7 linked regions of the Homo sapiens genome follow. The protein of the gene in region 7 interacts with the protein of the main gene of each other region in a pairwise test. Each region holds a gene or a part of one and is shown on either strand. Other genes may lie near its edges. The genes, in order: GRM1, SLC9A9, SERP2, ADD3, SCGB1D1, DOK5 and OPRM1.

What was found.
Region 1: the proteins of OPRM1 (region 7) and GRM1 interact in a two-hybrid assay, tested with the Homo sapiens proteins (one large-scale study listed by BioGRID and IntAct).
Region 2: the proteins of OPRM1 (region 7) and SLC9A9 interact in a two-hybrid assay, tested with the Homo sapiens proteins (one large-scale study listed by BioGRID and IntAct).
Region 3: the proteins of OPRM1 (region 7) and SERP2 interact in binary tests that used the Homo sapiens proteins (3 or more experiments, as listed by UniProt).
Region 4: the proteins of OPRM1 (region 7) and ADD3 interact in a two-hybrid assay, tested with the Homo sapiens proteins (one large-scale study listed by BioGRID and IntAct).
Region 5: the proteins of OPRM1 (region 7) and SCGB1D1 interact in binary tests that used the Homo sapiens proteins (3 or more experiments, as listed by UniProt).
Region 6: the proteins of OPRM1 (region 7) and DOK5 interact in a two-hybrid assay, tested with the Homo sapiens proteins (one study listed by BioGRID and IntAct).

Annotation. Positions count from the first base shown.
Region 1 is NC_000006.12:146,395,713-146,400,038, reverse strand, and holds part of GRM1 (metabotropic glutamate receptor 1 isoform alpha precursor), read right to left. Parts: intron 1,271-4,326; coding exon 340-1,270; intron 1-339. UniProt on the Homo sapiens protein: G-protein coupled receptor for glutamate. Ligand binding causes a conformation change that triggers signaling via guanine nucleotide-binding proteins (G proteins) and modulates the activity of down-stream effectors.
Region 2 is NC_000003.12:143,841,514-143,845,839, forward strand, and holds part of SLC9A9 (sodium/hydrogen exchanger 9), read right to left. Parts: intron 1-4,326. UniProt on the Homo sapiens protein: Endosomal Na(+), K(+)/H(+) antiporter. Mediates the electroneutral exchange of endosomal luminal H(+) for a cytosolic Na(+) or K(+).
Region 3 is NC_000013.11:44,379,674-44,383,999, reverse strand, and holds part of SERP2 (stress-associated endoplasmic reticulum protein 2), read right to left. Parts: coding exon 4,287-4,326; intron 1-4,286. UniProt on the Homo sapiens protein: Interacts with target proteins during their translocation into the lumen of the endoplasmic reticulum. Protects unfolded target proteins against degradation during ER stress. May facilitate glycosylation of target proteins after termination of ER stress.
Region 4 is NC_000010.11:110,010,763-110,015,088, reverse strand, and holds part of ADD3 (gamma-adducin), read right to left. Parts: intron 1-4,326. UniProt on the Homo sapiens protein: Membrane-cytoskeleton-associated protein that promotes the assembly of the spectrin-actin network. Plays a role in actin filament capping. Binds to calmodulin.
Region 5 is NC_000011.10:62,188,315-62,193,201, reverse strand, and holds the start of SCGB1D1 (secretoglobin family 1D member 1 precursor), read right to left. Parts: upstream 2,987-4,887; 5' UTR 2,918-2,986; coding exon 2,863-2,917; intron 1,147-2,862; coding exon 959-1,146; intron 1-958. UniProt on the Homo sapiens protein: May bind androgens and other steroids, may also bind estramustine, a chemotherapeutic agent used for prostate cancer. May be under transcriptional regulation of steroid hormones.
Region 6 is NC_000020.11:54,586,850-54,591,175, reverse strand, and holds part of DOK5 (docking protein 5), read right to left. Parts: intron 2,694-4,326; coding exon 2,579-2,693; intron 2,490-2,578; coding exon 2,370-2,489; intron 1-2,369.
Region 7 is NC_000006.12:154,045,475-154,049,800, reverse strand, and holds part of OPRM1 (mu-type opioid receptor), read right to left. Parts: intron 1-4,326. UniProt on the Homo sapiens protein: Receptor for endogenous opioids such as beta-endorphin and endomorphin. Receptor for natural and synthetic opioids including morphine, heroin, DAMGO, fentanyl, etorphine, buprenorphin and methadone.

The sequences.
Region 1 (4,326 bases), 7.6 Mb from region 7:
GATGCTCCATAGAAGGAGGTCCCATGCGAAAGGGTAAGTTACTGGCAGAACCGAAGCTTCCGCTTCTAGGCAAGAATAAAGATTGTTTCCTGCTCCTTTTCTTTCAAAGAAATGAAAACAGGGAGGAGCCTCAGTTCTGCATTCTTACTGCAACAGAATGTGAGATTTAAGAAAGGGAGAAAAGATTAAGAAAGGAAGAGAAAGACATGGGGGAAATGGAAGAGACAACTCAGAAAACTAGAGGAAGATATGAGAGACAGAGAAAGAGAGAGAGAGAGAGAGAGAGAAAGAGACAGAGAAAGGAAGAGAAAAGAGAGACAAACAGGTCAGATAACTCACTTGGCATTCCCTGCCCCTGCCTTCTTTCTTCGGAAGATGTTGAGGAAAGTGTTGGAGCGGCAGGGCAGCTTGCCATCGCCAACATGCATGCGGACAACATCAGAGGTGGTGAAGGCACTGCGGACATTCCTCTCAGGCTTGGCAATAATGATGTACATCTTGGGAGTGAACATGCACCCCAGAGCCACTGTTACACTGAGACTCACTGCAAAGCAAGTTGTGATGATCTTGTAGTTGCTCCCAAAGTAAATGGGCACAAAAGCTAGCCAGATGATACAGGTGGTGTACATGGTGAACGCGATATATTTGGCCTCGTTGAAGTTGGCGGGCACGTTGCGGGTCTTGAAGGCATAGTAGGTACAGCTCATGATGAGGAGTCCATTGTAGCCCAAAGGGGCCACCACACCCAGGTTGCTGGTATTGCAGATAAGGTAGACTTCCTTGATACTTGGGTAGGACAGAATGGGCATAGGGGGTTCCATGATGATCAGGGTTACCACCAGGGTTAGTTGCACACTAATCAGAATTGAGGCAATGATCACCTGAGCCCAGGCACTCATGAACCTGGGCTTCCGGGTGCAGATCTTCTTCTTGCTGCCAGCCAGGATGCGTGCAATACGATTGGTTTTAGTCACTAAAGCAGAGTAGCACATCGCAGAGGAGAGGCCAACCAAGAGGCGCTGGAGGTAGCAGGAGGTGGTAGTAGGTTTGGCAATGAGAGTGAATGGGCACACATAACCAAGGAAGATGCCAGCTAGGATGATGTAGCAGAGCTCCCGACTGGAGGATTTGACCACTGGTGTGTCCCGGTACAGTACAAAGATTAGGGTGACAAACAAGGTAACAAGGATTCCCAGGCATGAAAAGGCGATGGCTATAATGGATTCGATGTTGCTCCACTCAAGATAGCGCACAGGAATGGGCTCACAGCCTGTGATGAGAAAAATCATTTGAGCATGAATCCAAGGTTTCTGCTAGGAATAACAACTTGCCTATTAATTACCAGAGACACAGTCATCTTTGCATCCTTCATGATTTACAGCATTTAATGCTTTTTTAAAAATGCACACTATTACACAAATAAAGATACATCATTGTCTTACCTGGACAATTATGTCCCCAAACTTAATCTTATTACAAGCCTAATGTGACATACTTGAACCTATAAAAATGATCTTTTCTTCCAACATCAGCATTATAAATAGATGTCATTCTGTGAATGGGACTCGGTTCTACATGTTCAGAAAAAGAAAACACCCAAATAAAACTTTATTTCCAGTGAGGGTTAAATGGTGATAATGGGATAGAATAAATTATTAAGAAATAAACTAACAAAACTTTTCTTTTGATGCAGCCATTGTCTGTAGGCAAGTCCAGCTCATAGACAAGTCGTTTTTGGCCAGCAGAGTGTTTTCAATGTAAATTTCATGGACTTCTTTAGAAGAATCTGCATTCTCCTGTTTCCTGCATAACTCTATATTATACCTTAAATCTCACTCTTCTCATGAATCATGAATGATCTGTATCTGAAACCTGAGGGCCTTTGAGTTAGTAACCTCTAGTGGACATATCCAGGAAGAATGAAATCTCCCCTAACCCATCTCTTGAAAGGAAAGACTAGAATTTGTTCCTAAATTCCTGGCTTATCTTTTCCTTCTAGATGGAGAATAAAATGTATTTTGTATTTCAGAGTGAGAGAAAAATTTGTCAGGCTCTGGGACAACCCCTTCACAGAATTTTGTAATCACAAAATATTTGGTCTGGGCCAATATTTCCCAAATTGTGAGAATAAAGTCATTTCCATAAATTTAGGAAAAGACTCATTGTTCTGTAGCCATGGCAACAAGGAACCACCAGAACCAGTGCTAAACCTGTCAGTCAATCAACAACTTGCCTCAGTGAACATGTGTTTGGATGCCAAGCAAGCACTGTCAGCCCTTACTTCTGATAATCACTCAGGCAGGATCAGAATCACTTCAATAAATGAGTGCCAACTAATCAACAGTCTCATGTGAGTAATCGTATTGCTACAGGTGATGTCAACCAGCTCTCAGAAGCTGCAAGGTTTTCAATCCCTAAACTCCACACTTTCTAAAAACTCCATATAAAATGAATAGTCTTCTGCTCAGAGAAAATGTATCTGCCTAGCATAACTATCCCTTACTATAGTAAGCAATTTGTTTAGCTTTTGTGCTTTTTTTTTTTTTTTTTTTTTCTTTTTTTTTTGAGACGGGGTCTCACTCTGTTGCCCAGGCTGGAGTGCAGTGGCGCAATCTCAGCTCACTGCAAGCTCCGCCTCCTGGATTCACGCCATTCTCCTGCCTCAGTCTCCCGAGTAGCTGGGGCTACAGGCACCCGCCACCATGCCCGGCTAATTTTTTGTATTTTTACTAGAGACGGGGTTTCACTGTGTTAGCCAGGATGTTCTCGATCTCCTGATCAGCCTGCCTCGGCCTCCCAAAGTGCTGGGACTACAGGCATGAGCCACCACACCCAGCCAGCTTTTGTGCTTTTTAAAAAAAATTTTATGTATTTAGTCTCACCATGTTTCATATTTCTAGAGGCTTCACCAAGATAATTTTGAAGACTCCTTATTTGATAACATTCCAGGAGATGCTCTGATCAACAGGGTCACTCACTGGACCCCCTCGTGCCCGCATTCTGTCCTTCCCATGTACTAGCATGAGAGTCATTCTCAATAATTTTCTCACTCTGGCTAATTTTACTGAGCTCTTGTTGCTGAATTTATGTAGTTGTCCTAGGATTTGTAATCATGTAGGTCTTTATATAGAAGGCACTTAAACTTAGGTCTTTGTGTAAGGTTATTTCACCTGTATCTTTATATATTAAGTCATATAACCTTTGGTTTTGAAATGCACCATTTGGTAATTAGACATAAGCTTTTTATTATGTCAATAAATAGTTCACTTTAGAGATACACAATTTGATAAATATTTTTTTCCATATCTGTTTATTCCCTTGCTGTTTCTTTGCTTTTGCTGTTATTTACATACATACACAAAGTCTTATTTTATGGGTCTTTTTTGTTTGTGTGTTTGTTTCGTTTTGAACCATATTTTTCTGTTTTGTTTGTGTGTTTGTTTTGTTTTGAATCACCTTTTTCTGTTGACAATATAAGGGATAGTTCATAAACATTAGAGGAACATGTAAGCCTAAGAAGTGTCCAATCCAAGCTGGCCCTGAGTGCTAATGTTTGGAGCTCCTTTAAATTGATAACCAATTTGCCAAAAGTGGTAGGTCACTCAGCCTTAGGTTTCTTAGAAAACCTTTACAAGAATACTTCCCGTGTTGTCAACTTATGAAAGATCACTTTATTTTAGTGATTGTGTGTTGCCTTCCTACACTCCGTTTGCTTTGGGAATCTAAGACACCATTGGCAAGCACACACTTTTGACAGAACTTAGTGGCCTCTCTTCCTTGTGTATCAGAGATTTGTCTCTGTCTAAATACAAACCTTTTTCTGGAAGAACTTATTCTTCCTATATAAAGTCACATACTAATCCTAATTTTATTTTTGTTTTCCCAATGCAGGCAAGACAGATGATACATAGATGATAAATATATATATATAGACGATAGATAGATAGATAGATAGATAGATAGATAGATGATGGATAGGTAGGAAAATAGATATTTAAAATAACATTGGCCATATGGGAACTAATTTATGATGAAATCAATAAATTAAAATATTTACAAGGAGCTCTAGACAAATTAGGAGATAAAATACCACAGTGAATTGTCAGTTTCTTTAGCTGTCATCCTGCAAACAAATTTTCCAATTCAAAGATGATTTTTGTCAAGGCTTTGGTAACCTTCTGAATGCTACCTTCTTTTCATTTCATTCTTTTTCTATGCAACTTTACCTGACTCTCTAAATGAAATACTCTGTCATCAGAGATTTTACCAGAAAATAGTATAACATTTTAAACTTTCTAGAACACAAGTCAGATCTATAGAAGTTGA
Region 2 (4,326 bases), on a different chromosome or scaffold from region 7:
TCCCCACTTCATTAACTATGTAACATTAATTCAATGTAGATGGTATATGATATCTACATAAATAATTTGAATCATAAATCTATTTTCTTGATATGCACATTCATTAGCCTTTCAAACACTGAGGGGGGAGTCCTTCGAGGCACCACAGTAGTTTGCAGTAAAGTTTCATCTATAGCTTCTTTGAGATTCAGAATATAGTTTATTCATTTATTTAGTTTACTTATCCAAAATATAGAGGCTCTTTTCTTTATTTTTCTTTTTTGATACAGTCTTCCCGTCACCTAGGTTGGAGTGCAGTGGTGCAATCTCGGCTCACTGCAACCTCCGCATCCTGAGTTCAAGCAATTCTCCTGCCTCGGCCTCCCGAGTAGCTCGGATTACAGGCATCCGCCACTATACCTGGCTAATTTTTGTATTTTTTAGTAAAGACAGAGTTTCATCATGTTGGTCAGGCTGCTCTCGAACTCCTGACCTCAGGTGATCCACTTGCCTCGGCCTCCCAAAGTGCTGGGATTACAGGAGTGAGCCATCATGCCTGGCCCGGCTATTTTCTTAAAATCAACTTTTAAAAACATACAGAGTGCAGGCCGGGCGCGGTGGCTCACGCCTGTAATCCCAGCACTTTGGGAGGCTGAGGCAGGCAGATCACGAGGTCAGGAGATCAAGACCATCCTGGCTAACACAGTGAAACCCCATCTCTACTAAAAACACAAAAAAGTTAGCCAGGCGTGGTGGTGGGCGCCTGTAGTCCCAACTACTCAGGAGGCTGAGGCAGGAGAATGGCGTGAACCTGGGAGGCGGAGGTGGCAGTGAGCCGAGATTGTGCCACTGTACTCTAGCCTGGGTGACAGAGCGAGACTCCGTCTCAAAAAAGCAAACAAACAAACAAAAACCCCCAAAAACATAAAAAAACATACAGAGTGCAGTATGACTTTCATTCTTCCATTATTTTCCCTGTCTCTGGCAAATGTATTAACACATGGAAAACATTGTACAACTCTCTGAAGTTCCTTAAAAATCAAGTTTTTTACACCAAAAGGGAGAAGAAGTTTAGTATGCTGGGCTCCTAACCGTGATTACCTTTCCTGCAGATCCCTTAAAATTAAACCAGAGCTACTCTTGTTTTCATAAAAAATGCTTCTGCAAACTGTGGAATACATAGCCAGTCCTCACTATTAACTTGTTCTCCTCACCTTTCTGACAGGAATTCAACAGAATTTACTGAGCACTCCTTGCAAAATCAGAGCAGAAGCAGGAAGTACTAACAGTGCTGAAATAACACTAACTAAAATCTTGTCTGAGAGAACAGACTGGATATCATTATAGGCTGCCATGTTCTGGAAGGAAAGCTTCTGGTTTGGGCTGGAGTGGCTGAAAGATGCCTGATGGTTGAACTCAGTCTTGGCCTGAATTTTGAAGGACTTTTGCAGCTGGAAGGGAGACATGTGATATCTGTTCCTTTCTTCCCCATTTTATAGATGAGAAAAATAAGGCCAGATGTAACATCACTTGCCCAAAATAATGCATCTAGCTACTGAAAAAAAAATCATCAAGATTAAGAAACTTAAATCTCCAGGGGAGCACATCAATATTTTCTCTATAAAAAAAGCCACAGTGGAATAAGTAGAGCCTTGGAAGGACCTTCAGCCAGCGGGAAGGGGGTGAAGTAGTAGGAAGCATCTCCCATAGGCCTGGCAGTCAGGGAGGCTGGGCTGTCCTGGAGGAGGGTAAAATGGATCAGGAGGGTGTAGCCAACATGTCCAACAACCCAATTTAATCCTGAGGAACCTGCAGGGAGTGCTAGGAAGAAATTAATGCCTGCAGAAGATTTTTCAGAAAAGATAATTTTTCAATCCTTGATGATTCACTATGTAACTGTATTTTCTTTAAATCTTGAAAAACTTGGTGTTGAGTGAATTAAATTTGTCCTACTTAACTGTTAAGCACATTCTTAAAGAATCTGAAAACGCTTTAATATGATATAGTTTAATGAATTCAAAATGTAAACTTAGTGCCTTGAAATTTGTTATGTGCCCACTAAACAGTGGCCACAATTTTTACATGAATTCAGACTAACTTCTATGGGAAGGCCAGGAAGTCAAAGGCAGAATTCTAAGAGGTTTAAATTGCTCTGTCCCTAAGCTCAGATCCCAGCCCTCAAATGCACAGGATTATAAATGTCCTGTAAAGTATGGCAGCCCCCAGTGATATATAATGGAATTCTTAATGCTGTCAGGGAGCAAGGAGCAAATTTCTTTTATGAGCACTGAACAGGGGATACAGGCCCTAAGTGAGTGGTACTAAGTGCACCAGCTGCTGTCAATCAATACTTTAACCGCTAATTGTCATTTATGCTTCCAGTCCAATTTAAATGAGTATCATTATGGCTTATATTTTAAACCAGTTATGGATTCTAATCCTTCAATTTTGAAATGAGAACCATCGAATATCATAATAGATTACCCATTACTGTTCCTGGTGAAGCAAAAATATGGTTATAAAGCTGCCACTAATTTTTATAAGCTTCCTATGACCCTTAATAATAAGAAAAACCTATTTTTTATATAATGGATTATTTATACTATTTGGAGTATCATATGAATCTCTGATTGACACAGAGTCTAGCCAAATGCCACACAATTTTTCTTGGTCTCTACAAGTGTTCATATGATATTTTAAGATTAGCAACTTGAAAATTATTTCTAACAAGAAATATAAAAGAACATTAAACATTCTGCTTGATCACTTTTCTCTGCATTTTTTAAACTGCTTGTTTTCTAAGCCCCTGTTCTCTAGAATTTTTAAATTGGACTCTCAGGTACATTGATAAAATAGACTCAACATCTATCGAGTCTTCTAAAGAACATTTGACACATGTCAAAGGAATACTGGCAGAAAAGCAGATGGCAGAATAGGCTGAAGTATTATAGGAAATTTGATGCTGGGGAAAAACATTTATCATTCTTGATACAGGACAAGTAATACATTATACAAATAGTGAGAGCAAGAACAGTACTCGGTGGAGTAGGGGAGTTGCTAGCCAAATTCATTGATAAGCATTAGGTGCAGGTCCACTAAATCTTAAAATATATTTCATTACAAGCATATGTGTCTGTAGCACGGAGATGACTGTTACAGTCTACTCTCAAATGTTCACTTCCTTAAGAACAAGAAATTTTAAAAGTTTAACTTTCTTTCTCTTTCTTTCTTTCTTTCTTTCTTTCTTTCTTTCTTTCTTTCTTTCTTTCTTTCTTTCTTTCTTTCTTTCTTTCTTTCTGACACAGTCTCACTCTGTCACCTAGGCTCGAGTGAAGGCTGGAGTGAAGTGGCACAATCATAGCTCAAAAAGCTTAAGTTTTAAACATAGTTTTGTTTCTTTTCTTCCCCATTAGTTATCACCATGCCCCCCTGCTCTTGCAAAAGCTAAGAGTTTAATCCTTTAATGGAAAGGGGGATAGTACAATGTGGGATGCTGAAAATTCACTCTTTTAGACCTCCTGGAAAAGAGAATCTGGCTAATCCTGAAAGCTTAACCATATGAGGATGCATCTAGATCCCACAGACACATCCTTTCTCCAGGAAAATTATTGCAATAATTTACTTATTTTTAAATATCTTAGCATCTCTTATTAAAGAGATGGAGGTTGAATCCCACCTCAACAGCTAACTAATTACACGACTTTTATCTCTCTAAGTCTTCATTTGTTTGTCTGCAAAATGAGAATGCTGGATTTATGATCTTTAAGGCTCCTTCCCCATCTATGATTCCAAGTTCATTTATAGCTGTTGGACAATTAATTCACTTGGCATCTCCTTTCCCCTATCATTAAAAAGTGTTTACTACAGTATCCCATCATGTTCCTCTGGTGTAGTTTCAGACTATTTTATTACATTACTGATAGAAAGTTCCTAATAAGCATTTAAGATATAACATTTAGGACATCCCTGAAGAAGAAATGTGACAAGTCATGAATGCCACCCATATGGAGTACTTTCAGAAAACACAGGGAGAGTTCTTTCAGGTGAACGTGAACCTTAGTAAGACATGCAGATGAGTGAAAGCACATGGACCAGTCATGAGTGGCTATTCAGTTTTGGAAAGTCCCTTCACTTCTCTGGGATTCAGCTTCTGCCTCTCTAAAATAAAGGGGATAGAGAAGATAACCTCTAAAATTCTTTGACATCCTAACAATTATGATTCTATGCCAAGAAAAAGTTAAACATCACTAAAATATGTCTTTTCATTGATCTATATAGTTCAAGATAACTGAAAGATACTCAAAATTTCTAGTAAGAGAATACATATATATGCATATCTCCATAATT
Region 3 (4,326 bases), on a different chromosome or scaffold from region 7:
CCATTGCTTAGGGATCACGATAGCATGTTAATAGAAGACAGAGAAAGTAAGATGGCTCAACTCTCATTTCATGTCTAACCTCTCCATAAAAGCAAAATGGCTTTATAACTAGAAAGCTTTAAGTCAGCATCATTGAAAGAGCCCTGGGTGGCCGAGCGCATTGGCTCATGCCTGTAATCCCAGCACTTTGGGAGGCCAAGGTGGGCGGATCATGAGGTCAAGAGATCAAGACCATTCTGGCCAACATGGTGAAACCCCGTCACTACTAAAAAAAAAAAAAAAAAATTAGCTGGGCATGGTGGTGCGTGCTTGCAGTTCCAGCTACTCAGGAGGCTGAGGCAGGAGAATCGCTTGAACCTGGGAGGTGGAGGTTGCCGTGGGCCGAGATTGCGCCACTGCACTCCAGCCTGTCAATAGAACGAGACTCTGTCTCAAAAAAAAAAAAACAAAAAAAACGCAAACCTCCAGAGAGGTGGAGCTAACATACTCAATCCCTAGGAAACTGCTGGAGACCAGGAGAGTTCTAAAAGATGCTTGTTAGCAAATGTCCCAATTTACCCAAGAGGGAAAGATACAGGTCCTGCTGCATGGGCTGGTAAGCCAGGCAAAAGTTTAGGCCATATAATAGTTTTTTAAACCCTCCAAAAAGGAAGAGATGGGTTTTGAGAGTTGGCATGGGTTTGAGAAAAATAAGCCACGCCAAATGACTCTACTGGCTTTTTCCCTTATAGGCTGCCTAAGGGGGCAGACTGGAGAAGGCCACAGTTACTGTGTATCTTGAAGCCTATATATATCTTTATCTACTTAGACCCTTGACAATACAGGTGGCATGGTCACGGGGCTCAGGGATGCCTGAGAGTAGGCTTTGGCCATTCTGAGCACCTTATATTCTTGAGCCCAGCACATTCTCTGAAGCCACCATGCCACCGCCACATAGTGTTCCCATGCAGAATCACCTTCCTCACACCCTTTGTCTGGCTGTTTGTTCTTCAAGACTCCGCTCAAACAGCACCTCCCCTTGGAAACTTTCTCTTCTGCTGAGTATGATTTAGAAGTTCCTTATCCATGCCAGCCAAGCACCCTGTAAACTCTGCTGTCACTATCGCAGTGCGCTTTCCCTGGGCTGCAACTGACAGCTTCCTTATCTGCCTCTCCCAATGCCTGCAAGTACCCAAACAGGATTGTATTTCCAAAGCCCGGCACAGTGCCAGGCACAGAGGGGACCCTCAAGACATGATGATTGCTTGAATGAGTTTTGCTTAGAGGCTCAAAGTCAACCTGAAAGAGGTTGTCTCTGATTGTGTTCTGTGGGTTTCTCCAAGTCTAGACTTTTATCAGTGACTTGGAAGAATAATATATTTTCAGGGACCATAACACTGGGAAAAAAGGGTAAGTAGATCAGAGGCTTAAAGTTCAAGGTCTGACAATCTACAGACTGGTCATACAGCCTGAAAACATAGCTAACTTTTTTGTACAGGTTTATTTTCTTGATTTTCCTGTGGTATGATAAAGGCATAGTTTTGTTTGTTTTTATTTTGTTCTTTTTTTTTTTTTTTTTTTTTTGAGACGGAGTCTCGCTCTGTCGCCCAGGCTGGAGTGCAGTGGCACAATCTCGGCTCACTGCAAGCTCCACCTCCCTGGTTCACGCCATTCTCCTGCCTCAGCCTCCTAAGTAGCTGGGACTACAGGCACCTGCCACCAGGTCCGGCTAATTTTTTTGTATTTTTAGTAGAGACGGGGCTTCATCGTGTTAGCCAGGATGGTCTTATCTCCTGACCTCATGATCCGCCCGCCTCGGCCTCCCAAATGCTGGGATTACAGGCGTGAGCCACCGCGCCCAGCCTAAAATTTTAATAGAAGTAATCGTTCTTCTTTGAGAATAAAAAAAAAAGTCATAAAGTTTTATATTAGGTCTCAAAAAAGGTCAACTAGATATCTACAGTATGAGGAATATCTGGCTTTATCCATCCATCCATCCATCCATCCATCCATCCATCCATCCATCCATCCTAAGCACTAACTATGTGCTAAATACTAAACTAGGATCTACAAATTTAATGAAAAATAAACACTGTCTCCCCTGAGCTTATATCCTACTGGAGGGAAATGAACCTAAGTAAGTAAACTAAATAACTGCAACTGCTGATGAGGGTCATGAGTAAAATAAAATAATATGTGATGGAGACAGGAGAGACTTGGGATAAAGGGGTATGTAGATGTGTTTCCGGGGTTGCAGGAAGTTTATCTGAGGAAGAGCTGGGTGGCATCTGGCTGGCCATCAGCTAGACGTGAGTCAAGGATGTGCTGCAACTGTTAAAAAGTAACTGCAAGCCTGGGTCACATTAATAGAGGCAGAGTGGTGAGCAAAATCAAGGGCAGTGACAATCCTACTGCCTCTGTGGTGGTCACACTGCTTCTAGACCACCTTCTGCAGTTGCAAATGCTATACTTTTTTTTTGAGACGCAGTCTCGCTCAGTTGCCCAGGAAGGAGTACAGTGGCACGATCTCGGCTCACTGCAAGCTCCACCTCTGCAGTTCAAGTGATTCTCCTGCCTCAGCCTCCTGAGTAGCTGGGACTACAGGCGCGTGCCACCATGTCCAGCTCATTTTTTGTATTTTTAGTAGAGACAGGGTTTCACCATGTTGGCCAGGATGGTCTCGAACTCCAGACCTTGTGATCCTCCCCACCTCGGCCTCCCAAAGTGCTGGGATTACAGGCGTGAGCCACTGCGCCTGGCTTTTTTTTTTTTTTTTTTTTTTGAGACGGAGTTTCACTCTTGTTGCCCAGGCTGGAGTGCAATGGCGCGATCTCTGGCTCATGGCAACCTCTGCCTTCTGGGTTCAAGTGATTCTCCTGCCTCAGTCTCCCAAGTAGCTGGGATTACAGGCATGCGCTGCCAAATGCTACCCTTTAAGAAAGTCATTGAGCAGATCCAGAAGAGGAGTCTAGAAACCACATCTTATGAGGCAAGGTCGAGAGATTTAGGGAAGCTTAGTTTGCAGAAGGAGCCACCAGGCAGTCATCTTTAAAATATCTGATGATTCAAGGTGCTTAGAGGAGAACGAGTCCATTCTGTGTTACCCTAGGAGTTCAAATCTGAACAACTGAGAAGACAGCATAGTGTAATTCAAAACAGGAGAGACATTTCTAATAGAATTCCAGCAGACATGGAATAGGCTTTTTGAAGAAGTATTCAAATAGGGATTGGGTAAACAGCTGTTTAAAAGATGTCCTTAAAGATACTTCTTTGGGAATAGAGTAGAACTGTCTTTCTTTGAGTGTAAGATTTTCTCATCTTGGAATGCCAAATCATCTTTAAAATATTTGAGCCACAAGCAACAATAATGCCAAGTACTTTGGATCCTTCCTTCCTCCTAAGAGTTTTTGCTTCTTTGGAAGAGTGGTCTCTTGAAGATAAAAGGAACTGATCCATCTTAAATTTTTTTTTTAATTTTCATGATTTTAGGTTTGAATGCATGATTCATCTTTAGTCATGGGCTTCTCTTGTCATTGGGGCAGAGGCTGTCTTGCTGGGAGGCCTAAGCCTGAGCAGGAAGATGTGGACCTTCTGCCTCCCTGCCCTCAGTAACAGTGAGATGCTGGAGGGTGGGAATCCCTCAAGGCATGCTGTGTAGTTAGAAGAAGTGACCTCCACTCACAAGGATTTCTGAGACCCAACATATGGGGATCAGGAACCATGTCAAGGCTAGTTCAGCATGTAACTAGAAACAATGGCACGATGCTTCTGCTCATCTTCCCTGCATTTGTGTGTATGTGTGTATCTGCATGTGTGTAAGTAAAGCTCTCAACTTGCCACCTTACAGTATCAGGTGACCCATACCTTAAGGCTTGGGTCAAAGGCTCAGTTGTATCTAGGAAGTTGTATCTAGGAGCTCTGCAGAACTTTCTCATAAGGCATAAGGCCTCTCCCTTTCTCGGAATGTGGATTTATCACAGGCACACAGGTGTTTCACCTTCTGTTCTAATGCCCTTTTAAGGCTATGTCTGCACAAAAAGACTTTACTGAACTCTACAGTGTATACAGCCACTTTAACTACTCAGTGTAATCATTTTATGATTAGGATTTGATAGTGTATTAATTGTGTCTCTACCTATATTTGGAATAGAAACTAAATCAAAACCCATTAAGATTAAGGCTTAAGGCAGTGATAAACTTGAATCCCATACCAGTATGTTTTTCATCTATTTGCTTTGTGAAGAAAACGTGTGTTTTTCAAAGGCCAGTGGAGAACATGGGATATAAGTTCAGTGAAACACCCATACCTGAGCCACAGACAACAAAAACAAACAGTGCCAACAGCCA
Region 4 (4,326 bases), on a different chromosome or scaffold from region 7:
ATCCTGGCCAACATGGTGAAACCCCATCTCTACTAAAAATACAAAAAATTAGCCAGGCGTGGTGGCCCATGCCTGTAAACCCAGCTACTCGGGAAGCTGAGGCAGCAGAATCACTTGAACCAGGGAGTCGGAGGTTGCATTGAGCCGAGATCACGCCACTGCACTCCAGCCTGGCAACAGTGCGAGACTCCGTCTCAAAAAAAAAATTCTACCTTCCCTTAGGAAAGTGAACTCAACTCTGACAATAAAAACTGTAAAAGAAGGCTGGACGCGGTGGCTCACACCTGTAATCCCAGCACTTTGGGAGGCCGAGGCGGGTGGATCACCTGAGGTTGGGAGTTCGAGACCAGCCTGACCAACATGGAGAAACCCCATCTCTACTAAAAATACAAAATTAGCCGGGCGTGGTGGCGTATGCCTGTAATCCCAGATACTCAGGAAGGCTGAGGCAGGAGAATCCCTTGAGCCCAGGAGGTAGATGTTGCGGTGAGCTGAGAATTGCGCCATTGCACTCCAGCCTGGGCAACAAGAGTAAAAAACTCTGTCTCAAAAAAAATAAAAATAAAAAAACTGTAAAAGAAAGGCAAGGTAAGAGGTACACTGTTTTCACCTTTAAAAAGTTGGCTGTGGAAATAAGGAATACGAACAATGCATCAACTTCATTGCAAATCCCTTTCTACCTCCCATTTGTGCAGCTCAGGCAATGAAGCATTCCACTCATCCAAGGCACTTATGCCCAATCACAACTCCATTTGAGCTCTGACCATTGCCATTTTCCAACCACCTCCTTAGATATTAAAAGGCTGACCTTCTAGAATTTTTTTGTCATGTATTAAGACAAATGAGAACAGAAGTCACGATGCAGCTAACAGTTGCTCACTCTAACTTCCTAGGGCGTAAAAGTGGAGTGTTCTTAGAAGTCCCTGGGGAGGCCTTGACTTCCAAATTTACTTCCTTAGATATACCAAGTAAGCCTAACTATCTTCTTCAGGAGGATGAGTAAACCCAACTTTCTGCTCTAGCATTTAGTCATTCTAGCAAATCAAAAGATGATAGGATGAGAATATTGAATGGAAAAGGAAAACAGAAATGCTGTCCTTGCTCAGGATGAGCTGAGCCATTGTGGAAGAACTGCACAGAAACACTGCTAATGGTGACAAAGACATACACCGAGTTCCCATGACACTAAAAACTCAGCACTTCTCCAACCTGATTGCTTTTACATTGTTTGAGTTCCACCTCCTCTAGTAGGTAACCAACAAACCACCACAGAGGCAGAGTTAAACAGGCTGAGTCACTCACATCAGCACTCTCCTCTTTCATTCCATCTGAAAAGGTGAGCACTTCCTTTGGTGAGGGAGGGGAAAGTAAGAAATCACAAGAATAAATTTAAAGAGGTATGGAAGCTTAAAAAAATAATTTCGTGTATATTACTTGGAGTTAGGTTATCCTGCTTAATCCACTGCTTGCCTTAACGTATCTGTGATCACTGTTATTTTATTGTTTCACTAATATAGTATACTTCTTGAGACACTGGTTTTAAAGACATTATGTTACTGTCCTTAAATTTCTCAGAAGTGTTTTTACCTCCTAGCTGGTTGAGGGAAATGTTTATCCTATGGAAATTGCATATGCCCACTGCAGAAAAAATTGAGTTTCATAACCCTAGATTAAAACCTTAGCCTTGGCCGAGTGCAGTGGCTCACGCCTGTAACCCCAGCACTTTGGGTAGCCGAGCGGGGAGGAACACTTGAGGTCAGGAGTTCAAGACCAGCCTGGCCAACATGGCAAAACCCCATCTCTACTAAAAATACAAAAATGAGCCGGTAGTGGTGGCAGGCGCCTGTAATCCCAGCTATTCAGGAGGCTGAGGCAGAAGAATCGCTTGAACCCAGAAGGCAGAGGTTGCAGTGTGCCGAGGTCACACCACTGCCCTCCTGCCTGGATGACAGAGAGAGACTCCATCTCAAAACAAAACAAAACAAAAACCTAAAAATCCAAAAAAACCGTAGCCTTGTTTGAAGAGGTAGTCATCTTAAATGCCAGTTTATGTACCGTATACAAACCAATCTCCTCAGGCCCATTTTCATTGAAAGAAAAAAAAAAGTAAACATAACATATGGTGCTGATGCAGATCAGTCTGACTTCAAGTAAAGGCTCAATTTAGATCTAACCTTACCTTAAAGATATAAACCAGGCCTGTGGCTCATGCCTGTAGTCCCAGCTACCTGGGAGGCTGAGGTGGGAGGATGGCTTGAGCCCAGGAGTTCGAGACCAGCCTGGGCAACATAGTGAGAGCTGTCTCAAAAATACAAAAGAAGAAAAAAAAAAAAGATATAAACATATGCCAAGGCCTATACATCTTGTACAATAACGGTTCAGCTTTTAGTGGAGTTAAAACTAAGCAATATTATCTTCAAGAAACAAACTTACAAGAACAGTAAGCCTTTTAAAATCAAAGAGAGGTTTCATCCATTTTATACCTTTTGGTGATCATGCTACTACTATTTGGATTATGCTAGACAACTCTGAAAGCCACATTCATTCTTTAAGGTTTCTAGGATACTCTAAATGTATTCCTTCAATGCAGTTAAGTAATGTCCTAGAAGCCTGAAAGGAATTGTTAACGCAGCTTTTCAAACATACTCAACCAAAAACAGTTTAAGGAAACAAGGGGCTCTGATTCTCATTATCTGTGCTACCATCTAAGACTTTAAGTTAAACAGTACTTTCTTAACATTTAACATGTTTTCAACTGGCAATTCAATTTTGAACTTTGAGACTGGTCCAGATATTCAGCAACATTAAAATACACATGAAATAAATAAAAGATCCACAAACCTTTTTTCTCCAACACTTTTTTCCCACATAAAGGTATTACTCTATGCATACTGTTGGTACTCAATAAATATTACATTAATACACCAGGTGAATAATTTTTAACTTTACCTAAAAGGAAGAGAATCCCTCAAGTAGCATGGTTTGACATACGTATACATAGACACACACATCCATAATTAGCTACTGCAAGAATAAAAAATAATCATATTCATCTAAGGGATAACACACTTTTTCGTTCAAGCAACAGCCAATGAAAGACTTCTAACCTGTATGTTTTAGAGGATTCTTGATATATACAACCCATTACAGTAAAAAATTACAGTAAAAATTTGAGACTGTCTTGGCATTTGGCCAAGAGAACTGAATCTCTGGCAGAACCTGAAAGACCTCATAACAATCTCACCTATAAACACTCTGGCATGGACCCGGAGTTCAAACCATAGAGTATTAACAAAGAAGACATAAAGTATTAAGGCACTTATTTTGAATCTCAATGACATGACAGTCTAGGACTGTCCAATTAATTTTAAATTGGGTTTAAATAACTTCAAATAGGTCTACGTTTAAAAGGAAGAATAGCACTCGATTAGATATTTAAAGTTTTTTTAAAAATTCAAACTCTACATATTTAATATTTTCAAAGGAATCTGAAAAGCACTAATTATAACAAAAACAGTGTTTAGTGTGAGAAACAGATTAGTAACCTGTGTCTTCAATAAAGCTTGCACTTTCTCAATTCAACGCATGCTTGTTTTTAAACATTTTTTCCTAACATTACATTGCACTAAGTTGTCAAATGACATTTCATCTATCTACAATAATTCTAAACATTACTTAAAACAGCTCCTAATTTAGTTTATAATTTGTTTGACATATCAACTACAATGGTGAAGCAGCAACACACAGTTCCTTGAGGAATGTGAATGACAAAGTATAAGCCACAAGTTACATCTTTGCATTTAGGGTTCATTTTAGGAAGCAACTCAGGTGGTATTTAGAACAAACTTAAGTTAAAATTTATCTCAGGTTGATATGATGTTGGTAATCAGAAAGGTGATAAGGTTTACTGATTTACTGCAGAACTGGAATCTCCAATGGGAATTAGTGCCCTCTGGGCCACCTGGGGCCCTACATATCTGGTAAGCTTCAAAAAAAAAAAAAAAGACTTTAGTATCTTTAGTAATTAGAAAGATAGCACACTCTAGCACAAACTCTAGCACCCTAAACATATGTTGTGTATCAAAAGAGAATACCCTTTCAATGTCAAAAGGTGACTGTATTTAATGCGGATTAACCACCACTCCTTAGATTTAAGCATAACTTGGTGGTATTAATACCAGAGGATGTGGTTAAACAAGACATGTGCACCTGATAGTCGTGGGAATACTATGAAGACCTCTCACTGGTTTGCAGTAATTACCATGAGCTCAATAGCAACAAGGGGCAGTGGTTACATGGGCTCACTCTTGGGCCAGACTCTGGCTT
Region 5 (4,887 bases), on a different chromosome or scaffold from region 7:
CACAAGCATAAGGCCCAGGGTCCTCATAGAGGGGGGACAGAGCAGAGCAGCAAGAGGTTATTGTCTGGGCTGTCCCAGGACTTGGAGTCTCCTGTTCCCCGCAATGAAAGACCCAGTGCTGAGAGGTTGGTCAGGGCTGGGAGGGCCTCTGGGAAGCTTGGCTTCCAGGAGACTCCAGCCTCCCCATGTGGGAATTCTGCCTCAGGGCCTGAGCACCTCAATCCTGAGCCTGCAGCTTCCATGAGCATTTGCAGCTAAACCTCAGGACAGCAACCCAGAGGCAGCCAGGCTGAGAGGCCCCTGGAAAACCTCTGATTTCTTGAGAAAGACAGAGTGAGAACATCCCGCTTCCATGGCACTGCAGGAGGTAGAGTAGCGAGGGTCTTGGCCCACTGGCCGTGGTCAGGAGAGCATCGTGGGTGAGGAGGGGAGCGTGGAGTCTGAGGAGCTGGGAGGGGCTCCTTCCTGGTTCTGCAGAAGCTGCAGAGAAGTCCAGCCCTCCAGCGCAGCATCTGCAGGAGCCCCTGCTCTAGGTCCCTCCCTGCCTTCTTCTCCCTGTTCAAGGCTCCCACACTCCCCAGTACATTCCACAGTGACTGTGTGAGGTCCACTTGGCCTCAGGAAAGTCCCCAGGTGGAGAGACAGTTGTGCTTGGCCCTTCACCACCCCTGCCTGGACCCAGGCTCACTCCCCATGTCCTCAGCACACTCTGGGGACACGGCATCCAGGTAGGTGACCTGAGAAGGAGGAACATGCAGGAGGCTGTGTGCAGCTGAGTTGAATTCTGCAGGTGAAATGGTAGCACCCACCCTGTGGTCCCAGGTGACCTTCTCAAGCGGTGACCAGTAAGGCAGGTGCCCCACCACCTGTGTCCCTCACAGAGCAGCAAGCAAGCTGACCTCACTTCACACTGTGCCGCTGACCAGAAGCCTGGACACATGAAAGAGACAGAAATTACCAATGTTTTTGTAATTAGCACTCTTTTCTCATAGGCCATCGTATCCACGCATTTCTTCACTTCCATCTTGGCTGCAACAGCTTCCAGAGGTGCCTTAAATTTGGCAAGTTGGAACTTGAACACAGGTTTTCCAGCTAATAAGAAGCCTGTGATTTCAGAACCAAGAGCTTGGCAGACCACTGCATTTGCTGGAGCAAAAGAATAAAAATATAATTTGTGTAAGGAAATCAGTGTTTCTCCCATGCCTCCCTGATGTCAGACCAGACAGGAACCCCAGGGTTTTAGGCTTCTATTCAATAACTATGCCAATGACAATGTCAGACCCAGGAGGTTGTGACTTCCTTGAGGTCACACAGCAAAGGGTAGAGCTAGAACTGGAGAACCAACTTCCTGATCACTCATTCAGTCTTTGTTTTTTTTTTAAAGCACACTCATTACTTTCCAAAGCTTCTCTGGATGGATGGCCAACGTTCTCTTTTCTAGATTTGAAAATAATCACTTTTCTATGCCAGTTAAGTGACACTTTATTAGTCTTGGACATTGGTGAAGAGGAGGCTTTGAGTAATCAAATTTTGAAGTGGAATGGTAGAGTCAGAATCCTATCAGAAATTAGAGAAATGAGTAAATCTGGAACAGAAGAAGTTAAAATTATTGAAATGTTGAAGGTGATGTTTTGAGAACAAGTTGTAGAATTTAGGCTTATGTGATTCAATACAGACAGAGCTAAAAGGTAAACAAATTAAAACAAAATAAAATAATGTGAATCAGTTTTAACACACATTAGAAGCTTATACAGGAAATTGTACTTGGCCCATATTCTGCAGCAGCATCTAGAATATTTGGAGAGGATGAGAGGAGGGAACTGAGGCTCATTCCTGCTCCCACTGGGAATTTTGGAAAGACCTGGAGTAATCATTTTGCTTGGTCTGGAATCTCCATTCACCTAAGTCTTTTGCAAACACCATGCATCCAGAAAGCGCCCCACCATGCTCAACATGACCCCTGACTACCCGACTTCAAACTGTGGGGAGAATTTGGAGAGGGTAGGATCGGGGTGTCACAGGGAAACAGGGAGAGGTTCAGAAAAGAAGAGGAAAGAGAAAAATCAGAGTCTGGATCGGTCCTGACAGGGGAAAGGAAAGTACCCAAATGAACTGGGGAAAAATCAGCCAGAATTAATTTTAGAAAAATAGAAGTTCTGAGGCTAACCATTGTAGTATTTCTACCACCATTACGGTAGGACCCCTAGAAGATATATTGAGTGCTGCTTATTCTAAGAATTCATTTGCAGGCTTCTTATTGAGAGAATCAGAAAGCACCATCTCTTCTTGGACTGAGAGTTCTCCAAGGATCCTTCGAGATGTAACATTTTATGAGTCTGAATTTACAATGTAAGAAGCTGTGAGCTCAATTGGCACCTAAAGGTCTGGGGACGAGAATGTCTGACAGTACAGTGATTGGCTTCACATCCACAGCTAGACCCTTGGCACAATAATCCCACTCCATTCCCATTGCCACTCCCGGAAGAAGCTCTAAGCACCAGAGATAGGAGGAGGCGCGGGGAGGGTGAGCATCTTGCCCACGGTGAAAGGGCTGAGAAGTGGCTGAGCCCAGAGTCACCCCAGACCTCACATTACATCATCTGACACAGATCCCATCCAAGAGTGAAGCTCAGGCAGAATTCCTAACGTTCGCCTGCATTGATTTTCTGCAAAACTTCCTAGGTACTGGGGATTTGATGAAATGAGGCCCGAGCTTTATGAGCAGTTCCTTCAACAAGCACAGGATAAGGTTTGGAATTTTGGTTTGTTCCAGACCCCAACCTTAACCTTAATAGGTGACCTCGTGCTCAGAGAAGGGTGTGTCCCAAGGGCTGGTGCTGGACTCATGACTGATGTACTCACCCCGGTAGCAGCAAAGGGCCAGCGTGAGCAGCAGGAGACACACCGACAGCCTCATGGTGGCTTATTCTGCTGTGAGCTCGGCTTTAACCAATGATGAGTGATTTAGACTCAGCCCCGGGAGCCTGTGGAGCCGTGGAGCCCAGGGCTATTTGTACCTAGGGAGCCTGGCTGGTCCTGCCCACATGGGCATCTGGCAGGTGATGAGGCCTGGCTTCCAGCCCTCCCTTCCTAGCCAGGGCTGCTGCCATCCATCAGTGTCACATCCCCACACCTCCCTGCATCCTGAGTGGGGCGGAGCACGGGAGGGCAGCCCTGCAGAAACTCTGCTCTGTGCTCCAGGTGAGTGTCCAGGTGCCTCTGGCAATGTTCCCTGGAACCTCAGTTTGCTTTTGGGCTTTTGAGGATTATCTCTCTGTTCTTTATGTCAGTGCAAGGGCAAATGTGAGTTCTCATTTCAGGAGGACAGAAACCGGGGGTGCAGGAAGCTAGGGGCTGTGGTTTGGTTATAGGAGAGCAGGCACAGAAGAGACCCCACTTTGACCTCCACTGCATGTCTGACAATCAGCCACACGTGTTTCAGCTGCACATAGATCAAGTCTGAACCAGACCTATCCTCCCACTCAGCCCCTTCCATCCCCACCATCTTCACCACATAGGTACCTAAAACATAGCTGCATACACCCCACCTTTGGAGGATTTCCTTGGGGAAAACAACCACTCCCCCTGTCCTCTACTCTGTCTCACTCCAAGATCTGTGTCTTTATTTATGGGTGGAGTTGTCAACATAGCACAGGTTCAAATTTTCTGTCTACTAAAAGCAAGCCTCCAGTGACCTCTAGCCACCCATATCTCCTCATAGGGCTGATGGGATGATTAAATTGCCCAACTTTTTTTACCCAAGGAGCTGCTGGGGTGTCTGGAGGCAAACAGGCATCAGAAATACTGGTCTTCGCTTCTAGGCAGGGACGATAATGGAAAGGAAGAGATGGATGAACAGGGTGGGTGGTCACTTCCCTCTAACCTCTGGGCTCAAGTTTTCCACTTCTAACCCAGCTCTGCTGCCTGGGTCATCTCATTGTTGATGGAAAGCGAAGGCCATCCCCAGCAAAAGCAATAGACACCCTTCTGCCCTTCCACTGCAGTGCCATCATTTGGTGAGTAGGAAATCACCAGAAATTTGGCTCTTAAGTGAACACACATTTGAGAACAGTCACAGCCCAGGCCAGAGCTTTCCATTCTCTGCTCTGCAATCAAATCACTTGGGGCTCTTAAACTATACTGACTCCCCGCAGGCTGCTTCCCTTTCTGGGGATTTTGATTCAGTAGTTCTAGGGCGAGGTCCTCTTCTGTTTAAACTGCTCTGGTGGGTCTGATGGGCAGCAGTACTGAGAACCACCCAGAAAGACCTTTATGAAGGAAGCGGACCTTATGGTCTGTGTCATCAGAGACACCTTGGCAGGTCTGGCTGAGTCCCAGCTGAGGGCGACAATGCCTCTCACTTCCATCACCCAAAATGGTGGGGAAGCCCCTGATGCCACCTCTGCCTCCAACCCTAAGGAGTGGAAGGTCCAGTGGCAAAGCCCATGGCTAGGAGGGTTCAGATCCATGTCTATGGGCTATTGAACCCTCTGAAAATTAGTTTATGTAAACACAGTTTTCTCGTTTGTAAAAGTAGGTTAAAAATGGTGCCTACATCATTGGGTTGATAGATGTTCAAATGAGTGTGTGTGTGTGTGTGTGTGTGTAAAATTTACCAGGTCTGGCCAGGCGCAGTGGCTCACACTTATAATCCCAGCACTTTGGGAGGCCGAGGCGGGTGGATCACCTGAGGTCAGGAGGTTGAGACCAGTCTGGCCAACATGGTGAAACCCCGTCTCTACTAAAAATACAAAAAATTAGCTGGGTGTGGTGGCATGTGCCTATAGTCCCAGCTACTCAGGAGACTGAGGCAGGAGAATCTCTTGAACAAGGGAGGCAGAGTTGTGGTGAGCTGAGATGGCACCACTGCACTCCAGCCTGGGCAAC
Region 6 (4,326 bases), on a different chromosome or scaffold from region 7:
TCAACTTGTAATTTCTATAACTAAATGAATAAAACTGTATTTCAATCATTTAAACAAAATGCCACAGTAATACTATGCACTTAACTGGCCAACAATTTGGGAAAATGCCAATGCATATATTTGAACTAGTTTCAACAAAGAACTTCCTTTAGCCAAATAGTGGAAAGAAATATTCATTGCATATTTGGATGATTGCTAAAATGCAACCAAAATTATTCTACATAAACTGCTTGGCTGATTAACCTAATTTTCATCCCTGCAGATACAGTCACCATATTTCTGTTATATTTCTGGAAAATTCATTAAGAAGTTTTTGAGTCAAAGTCTTTCAGTGAAAAATGAACAAAAATATTACTATAGCAAACATATTTCCACCTATGCATCATTATGGTAGATTGCCTACATACGACAATGTGGCATTAACAATTTTATATTAGTGGTATTCTAAATACATTGTTTTATGATAAGATAGTCATTTGAATTTTCATAGATTTTAGTTGAATTTAGTAAATAGTAATGCTGAGATAGTGTTCATGAAATGTGTTCCGCGATCTACTATTCAAAAATTTTTAATTATTTCATATTCTCAATAAACAAATATTTGTTGATTTCTAGTAATCATATTTAAAAATGTATTCTAATTGAGCATATTCCCCCCCCTTGAAAGTTCCAAGTAAGAAAGACTGTCTATATTAAGTAAAAAGTAAGAGAGATCATTATCAATCTATTTGCTTAGAAGTTCTCTGAGTCCTACCTCACTCAAGAATAACAATAGGGGAGAGATAGGGAAAAAATAATAATAAAAATTTAAAAAGAGTAATAGCAATAATGGTGGAGTGACCATTTTAATTACAATCATTTGAAGTCATACTAATTAACATTGGAAAGGGCCTGAGAGGACACAGTTGAATTTATAATAATCCCTGATACTTGTAGACCAGAGCTATTATTTCCATTTAACAGAAGAGGAAACTGAGGCACAGAAAGCTGCTGTGGGAAAGGTATCTCCTACGCACCGCCAATTTTTAAATTCAGATTGTGGTGCTGTCAGGATACTGCTTCCCCAAATACAAATTTGTGAAAAGTGCTGATCTGAGCACTCTAGGTGAAAAAATGAATCATAATCAAAACCTGCCAGGTTTTCTTTATGCTTGGCTCCTAGGTATCCTCTCTGCCTGGGGTGTCCTGATTTAGTGAACCAGAGAAGGAGGAGCCTGGGGATTGGTTGTGTAACCCCGTCAATGACTTAACCTCTCTGTAGCTCAATTTTCCAATCTACAAAGAGGCTCCTCTGAATTACCCAGGGCTTCTAGGTCTCGGTCAATAACATTTCCATGGAGATGGGTTATGGCAGATATGGTGCATCCAAAGAGTCACAGATTGTAAATGTGTCATGAAGACATAGTTCCAATTGGGAGGGACAGCATTTTTTTTACTAACATTGGAGTGTGCACCTACAGAAAAAGTCAGTACAATTCCATCTCTGCCATGTCCGTAATCAAACCAGATGACCCACAGACCTTTCCATGGTGACATGCCCTCATAGATCAAGTCAGCCTACAGCAGAACTCTGTGATCTGATCTACCCCGTCCCCAGGCTCAGCTGTTAGGAGACAAAGGAATGATTCCTCACATCCAGGTTTGTTCTGTAAATCAACACTGATTTTTGCTGAAGTGTTCATGAATATTTTAGTCATTATTATTTTAAATTATTGATTCCCAGATTGACTGCTGAGCTCAGAGTTGGCTCAAGTGTTTCAATAAAATATGTATTTTTTTAATTACAGATTTTAGATGGGTTTAAATTTGGTGAAATAGTCATAAAGTTTGAATTATATTGAAAACATTGGAAAGTTGTTGATAACATTTTAAGTGAAAAAGGCATGACCAAAAAATGCCCATGACATTTTAAAATCTGTAAACTGTAATATAGGTCCAACGGTATCGTCTAGAATCAAACACTAGTGAGCTAACAGAATTGAAGGAAAGTCTTTACGTCCTCTAAATTTTAGTTTCCTCATCTGCAAAACGTAGGAAGTAATTATACCTACACCATAGGGCTGCTATGAAAAGTACAATAAATAATCTGAGATGAGTTAAGCATCTTCCACCAAACTGGCACATAGCAGGTTCCCCAAAATTTCTAACTGATATTATTAATGTAGATACATTCATGTTATGAATTGGAAAAAGAATAAGAAAAAAATACACTGAAATGTTAACACAGGTTGTGGATTAGATAAAAGATTACTTATTTCTTTATACATTTTTATACCCCAAAAACTTTACATAATGAAGATGTCTTATGTTTTATCATATGGAGACAGAAGCAGTTTTGAAAGAGAGAGGAGAGAATTTTCTTTACATACCACTCTGTTCTCTCTCAACCCCAGTGGCCAGTAAGTCAGGCTCTCCAAGGCTGATGTCATTGATCCGTGTTCCTACACACTCCATCTGGAGTACTTTGCACCACTCATCAGCCTCAAGATCTGTGGAAATGTCAAAAAGATTAAACTGTGTGCCCAGCATCCATTCAGAATCTAAAAGCAAAAGCCCCCCAGCCCTGCCTGAGACAAACCTGATTCGCAAGCAAAAGTCTTGGAGGTATCGTCATTGAAATAAATCCCTATGGCATGTTTCTTGGTGCTTTTTGGCAATCGAGCTACGTTCTTCACATTATTGAGTTCTGTAACCTGAAAATGAACAATTAGAAGTTTGACACACTCCCTGAATGAATGTCTCCAGTATACAACACCAAAGGTGAGGCCCGGAAATCAGTATGGCACAGCACAGCTGAGCACAACCTGTTGAAAAAGTATCTACATCTGAAAGCTAAGATGTATTTAAGTGAGTTTAGTATTATCTGTAACACACCGCAAGGATGGTTAACAAATTATCTTTCCTTATTAAATTTTCTGAAACGTATTAAGTGGAACAAGCTTAAAACTTCACAGAGGTAGAACATTTTGGTTTTTCTTTTTTCTTTAGTTTTTCAAATCCTCCCAAAGACTCCACTTGACCAATAGTTCTTATGTCTGTTTCGGTCTCTGTGGACAGCCTTCTTTCTCAGCTGGCTGCAAAAGCCTCCAAATATTCCATCCCTTCAGAGTATTCCCCATGTAAGTGTCTTAAATACATCAACCCAAGGAAGGGAAGGGAAGGAAGAGTGGTCCAATTCATAACTAGATTATTTCACTCTTTACCAGTCAGAGATACAGCGTCAAGAGTCTCAGAAACGACCCCTGACTTGAGGTCCAAATCATAGAAAGTACATAATGAATTTGGTTTTCCAAATATTTTCCCACTGTCTCTAACTTACTCCTAGCTCCTCAGTGGTTACAGGGCCTCTGTTTTAGGCTCTGAGAACACTACCCAGTGGCGCCTTCTTCCTAGCAGGGAGGAAAGCCATCCCCACTAGACGTTCTCTCTCTCCTCCCTCTCTCCCATAATTCCTTGGCTCCTTTAACACTTTTGTAAACCCCTCCCTTCCCACAAAGTGTCTTGGCTCATTATATTTCCACAGTGGTCATCTCTCATCCAGTTACATCCGCATCCTCAGCTGCATTGGAGGTTTGGAATATTTGGGTCATGCCTGAGCGAAGCCTTAGGTGGCTTCAGGGTAAGTATTTACAAGATCAATAGCTTTTCACACTGACAAGTTTAACCTCCCTTTCATATATCTCTTTTGTGCTGTTATACAAAAGAATCCACTTTCCATCAATCTTTGCCTGCAATGATGTTGTTCCGTTTCTCTCGTCTGTTACTCTAAATTCAATAAATGCTTAGCTCAAGCAGTAGGTGGGAAGTGAAATAAATATCCTCCATGCACAACACTAATCTGATTATTTCATTTCTCTGCTTCTTAATCTCCATCAGCCCTTTTCATAGTATAAATGCAAATTTCTTAGCATGAAATGTCACACCACTTCTCCTCAAAAAGTGCCCAAACCGATCACGTCAGTGACTCAGCACCATGTATCTTATTCTCCAACTACACCAAGTGCCTCAGGACTCACCAGATACAACTGTTGATGTGTTTGTTTATTTTTATTTTTTGCCACTACCCCAATTCAAGCCACTATCATCTTGTCACAACTACTTATTGATCTTTCCACTTCCATTTTAATCCCCATTAATGCATGCTGCACATAGCAGATTTTTTTTTCAAAACATAAGTCTTGAAATATTACTGTGCATAAACAGAACACTTCAGTGACTTCCCATTGCACGTGGGACAAAAGCCTGCATCCTTAGAATGACCACCAAGACCCCCTGTGGTCTTGCCCACGCTATCTCACCACTGTCCTCTCTATACCTTTCCCATGT
Region 7 (4,326 bases):
GTATATATTTTAAATTTGTGTGATGTGGTTGGGTATCTGGTGACTCATGAGTGAGTTATATGGGAATCCATTTTGTTTTCAAACGATTCTACCTGATTATAATAAAACATACAACTTGTCATCATGTCATGAATTTGCTACCATATTTAATTTGGAACATAGCTTCCTGATTTTCTTCTTTACTAGTGTTTCAAAAATATTTCCTTGAGGAACATTTTATATATATTTGATTCTCATTATTTGAGGATTCTGTATTTGAAAATTGGCCTCTTCACTAAAATCTATTAATATTTACCCGCAAAATAATACTTGGCTTTTGCAGTCATTTGAGGACCTGTGTGGACATGTATAGAGCAGCAAAAAATTTGAGTTGCTCTCTGTGCAGGTTCCCAGGTAAGGTCAAACAAGGCAATGCTCTGCTGTCTTCTTTCAGCTTGTACTATAAACACGTGTCCTTTTCACAATCTATTTATTGCCACATTTTTCACATTTCTGTGTTTTTTTGTTGTTGTTGTTGGTGGTGGTGGTGACTTCACTGTTTAAAATGGTCTCAAACATAGTGTGGAAGTTCTGCTTAGTGTCCCTAAGCCAAGAAGACTGTGATGTGGCTTATGAGGAAAGTACTTGTGTTACAGAAGCTTTGTTCAGGCATGATTTATAGTGCTGTTAACCATGAGTTCAACGTTAGTGAATCAGCTATATATTAAATAAAGCGTCTTTAAACAGAAACACACATAAAACAAGGTTACGAATGCATTAGCTGATGAAAATTTTATAATCAGAGGCTCACAGGAACCTGCCCTATATATCCCCTAGAAGCAAAGCTTCAGTACTCACGAATTCTGTAGTCATAATGACTTTATGGACCATAACTATCATGAATAATGGGAATTGACTATATTAACTTTTTATGTTTTTACTTCTTCAAATTTTACTTTCTGAGTTTTTATTATAAGAGTAACCATATATTCCCTTTTTAAAGTTTGTAAACTCAGGAATATATGCATATATAGACATGTATGTGTTTGTATTTGAATTTATGATTTGCTAATATGTATCTATGGTACAGATCACTTTTCATGACTCAAGTGATAAAAGCTAAATATGCATGAACAAAGTGAATTGAGAAAATTATTTAAATTAGATTTTATACTTGAATAATTTGAGGTACATCTGAATTGCTAATAGCTTAGAATTGTACAGTATTTTGAAGATATTCAGTTCTGTTGGTCAACTTTGAATGTTGGATTTCTCACCTAAACACAAAGAGATAGATATAGTTCAAGTCTTTAAGTTTTATCAAGTGACATTTTATAAGGCCATGAGAAAATGCATAATTTTTTTTTAACAATGGTAGCATGTATTTTGGGTTATATTGCAGGGAAATTGGTTGTAGGAGTACTTTGGAGAGGCTGTAAGAAAGGATGGATTTAAGTTGATACTTGAAGAACAAGAAACATTTTGATAGGAAAAGAATGAGAGATACGTTACAGGAAAACAGAGAGAAAGAAAAATAAAGGAAACAGTATAGAAGAGATAAACATGAAGCATATTGGAAGATAGTGAAGGAATCAGGTTGGCCTAATTTACGTAAACGTTAATTTAAATCACACTAATGGTTTTCAGTGAATATGAGTGGTTAATATTTGAATCACTTAGGACACCTACTGTAAACTGAATGTGTTCCCCTCAAATTCACATGTTGAAAACCTATTCCCCAGTGTGATGGTATTTGGAGGTGGGGCCTTTGGGAGGTGATTAGGTCATGAGAGCAGAGCCATTATGAACACTATTAATGCCCTTATGAAAGAGGCCCTAGAGAGCTTCCTTGCCTCTTTGCCTTGTGGAGAAATGGGGAGAAGTTAGTTGTCTCTGCAAGAAGGTCCTCAGCAAATGCAGAATCTGCTGGTGCTTTCATCATGAACTCCTCAAGCCTCCAGCACTGTAAGAGTAAATTTCTGTAGTTTGTAAGCCACCCAGGCTATGGTACTTTGTTATAGCAGCCTGAACACACGAAGACACCTACTTACATACAGTGCATAAGCTAACATATTATTTAAAACAAACAAAAAACAAACAAACAAAAATTGTACTTAACAACATTTTTGCCTGGACAGACACATATCCAGAACAGAATGATCTCTCTCTCATTTAAACCCATCACACACTTCATCTTATGGGAAAGCCCTATCCATTGGTTTACGAAAGTTCACTTGATTAGATTTGGTGGAACCTCTTTGCATCAGATTTGGAATACAACATCCAGGATAGGACTAATACCTAAAGGCAAATATTAAAACCATCTCCTAAAAATTAAACAGAGAATGAGAGACAGAGAGAGAGAGAGAGAGAGAGAGAGAGAATTTTGCCCACGCTCCACCTTTGCCAGTCACGCTTTTAGGTTATGCGTTCCTAACCCTTAAGGAGGCAGCACATACTCTGACTCACTGTTTTTCATTCCTTGTCTTTCCCCATCTTGCACCCAGGCCCTCAGGTACACAAAACAGCAGGACCTTTTGCTTGGGCCTCCCAGTGCAGTAAGAAGATGACTTTTCCCTCTCCTTCCTGCATTTCTGCTCAAACATGTGATGCTCACCTGGTGGCTTCTGTGGGGTGGGGGTGGGGGGAATGAAACATGATGGGGTTGCACCTTTTCCCACTTAACCACTTGCCTGTACTCTCGAAGCATATGAATAAAGGCTTGACTGTAACTTTCTGTTTCCCTTATTGTCCTAATCATAAACACCACACCTGGCAGTTCAGAGCACACTCACTCTTTCTCCCTTTGACAGAACCTATTTGAGCTTATATAGAATCCAAAGGGCTGTGATGGAATGGCAACCACGATTGTTTAGTTTTGTGGATGATTCCTCTTTTCCTCCAGATTGTATTGCTGGGAAAAACATGCTCTTAATAGTCATTGAAGTTGCCATAGGACATTTTAGTACTAGAAAGCGTTTAAGATTTTTTTAGTCCAATTCGCACCTTTTTACAGATAAGGAGAGTGAGGCGCAGAGTGCCTTGAAGTCGAGCCACAACTGACACTTGGGGCCCTGAGCCAGGGCAAGGTTTCTCTTCCTTGCTGTTCTTCCTTTCTAAATTTGTATCTGAGAAATTGATGGGGAAAGAAAAAAAGTTACCTGAGGCAAGAAAGGATGGGTAAAGAAAGGAGTTGCTTGGTAAGCTCAGTATATGATGCTTGTTGTATATGACGTTTCCTGCATTTGATGCTTCAGCTCACTTTTGAAGACTGAAATTTTCTTGAGCTCAATTAATCACAAGATACTCTTAACGTTACTATATAACATGAAATTAATGGAAAAGGGAGTGGCAGGATTTTTTGTTTGTTTGTTTTCTTATACCCTCAGATAATTTGCCAGAAGGCACAGGAGGCTTTATTTCCTTTACATGGCACACACAATTCTGCTCCTATTATCCTGAGCTCAAGAAGAAGTAAACTGAACACTGGACATGACTGGTGCCCACTCTCTCTCCATTCAGCCAAACCTACCCAAAAAAGCCTTTCCTAAATCCCAAGGCAGGAACAAAAATGGAAGGAAAAGCTTAGCTTCTGAACTCTCTTGGTAGTTCTAACTGGTGCTGCCTATCAGAATTTTTCTTACGAGTTTTTGATAGTTAAGAGAAAACCTTTATTGATAGGTCTGTAAGAGCTCTATTTATTAAACAGATTTTACTGTGCTAACGTATAGTCACCAATTATAAAATAACAGGAAGGATATTCAGCAGAGTGTGAGATACGACCTTGTGTGAAGGTGAACCATTTTGAAAAGTGGTTGCTTGGCAAGGAGTGGGAAACTAGAAGAGTAAACCAGGGAAGAGGAAAACGAGGCATGTTTTTGAGACGGTCACAATGTGGGCGGGGCCTTCTGATGTGCCTTGTAGTTGGCACCTCAGAATTGTACACCTCAGGAGAGAGGGGAGCAAGGGCAGCATTTTTCCACAGGCTTCCATTTCCTGGTCAAGGGAACTTTCCTGAACTTCCAAATAGTGCCTTTGTGAGTGCCAGGCTGATTCCTATGGAGGGCAATTACTCCAGTAGAGAAGCCCTAGGGCAGAAAGTAAGTGATTTAGATGCAGCCAAGGTGAAGTGTTACTCAGTTATGTCTGGAAACTGACTGCCATATCAACGGCTGAGGTAGAAGGCGAGGTGAAGGACATGAGGTGGGCACGAGAAGGATATGAAACAACGTGAAAGCCATTGCTTTCAAATTTTGCCTGGTGGAGCCCTAGAAATTCTATGGTGGTCCCTTGGGGACAGCACTGGTGGGTGGCATGGGGGTGCAAGGTGAGCAGTGCTCTTGGTCT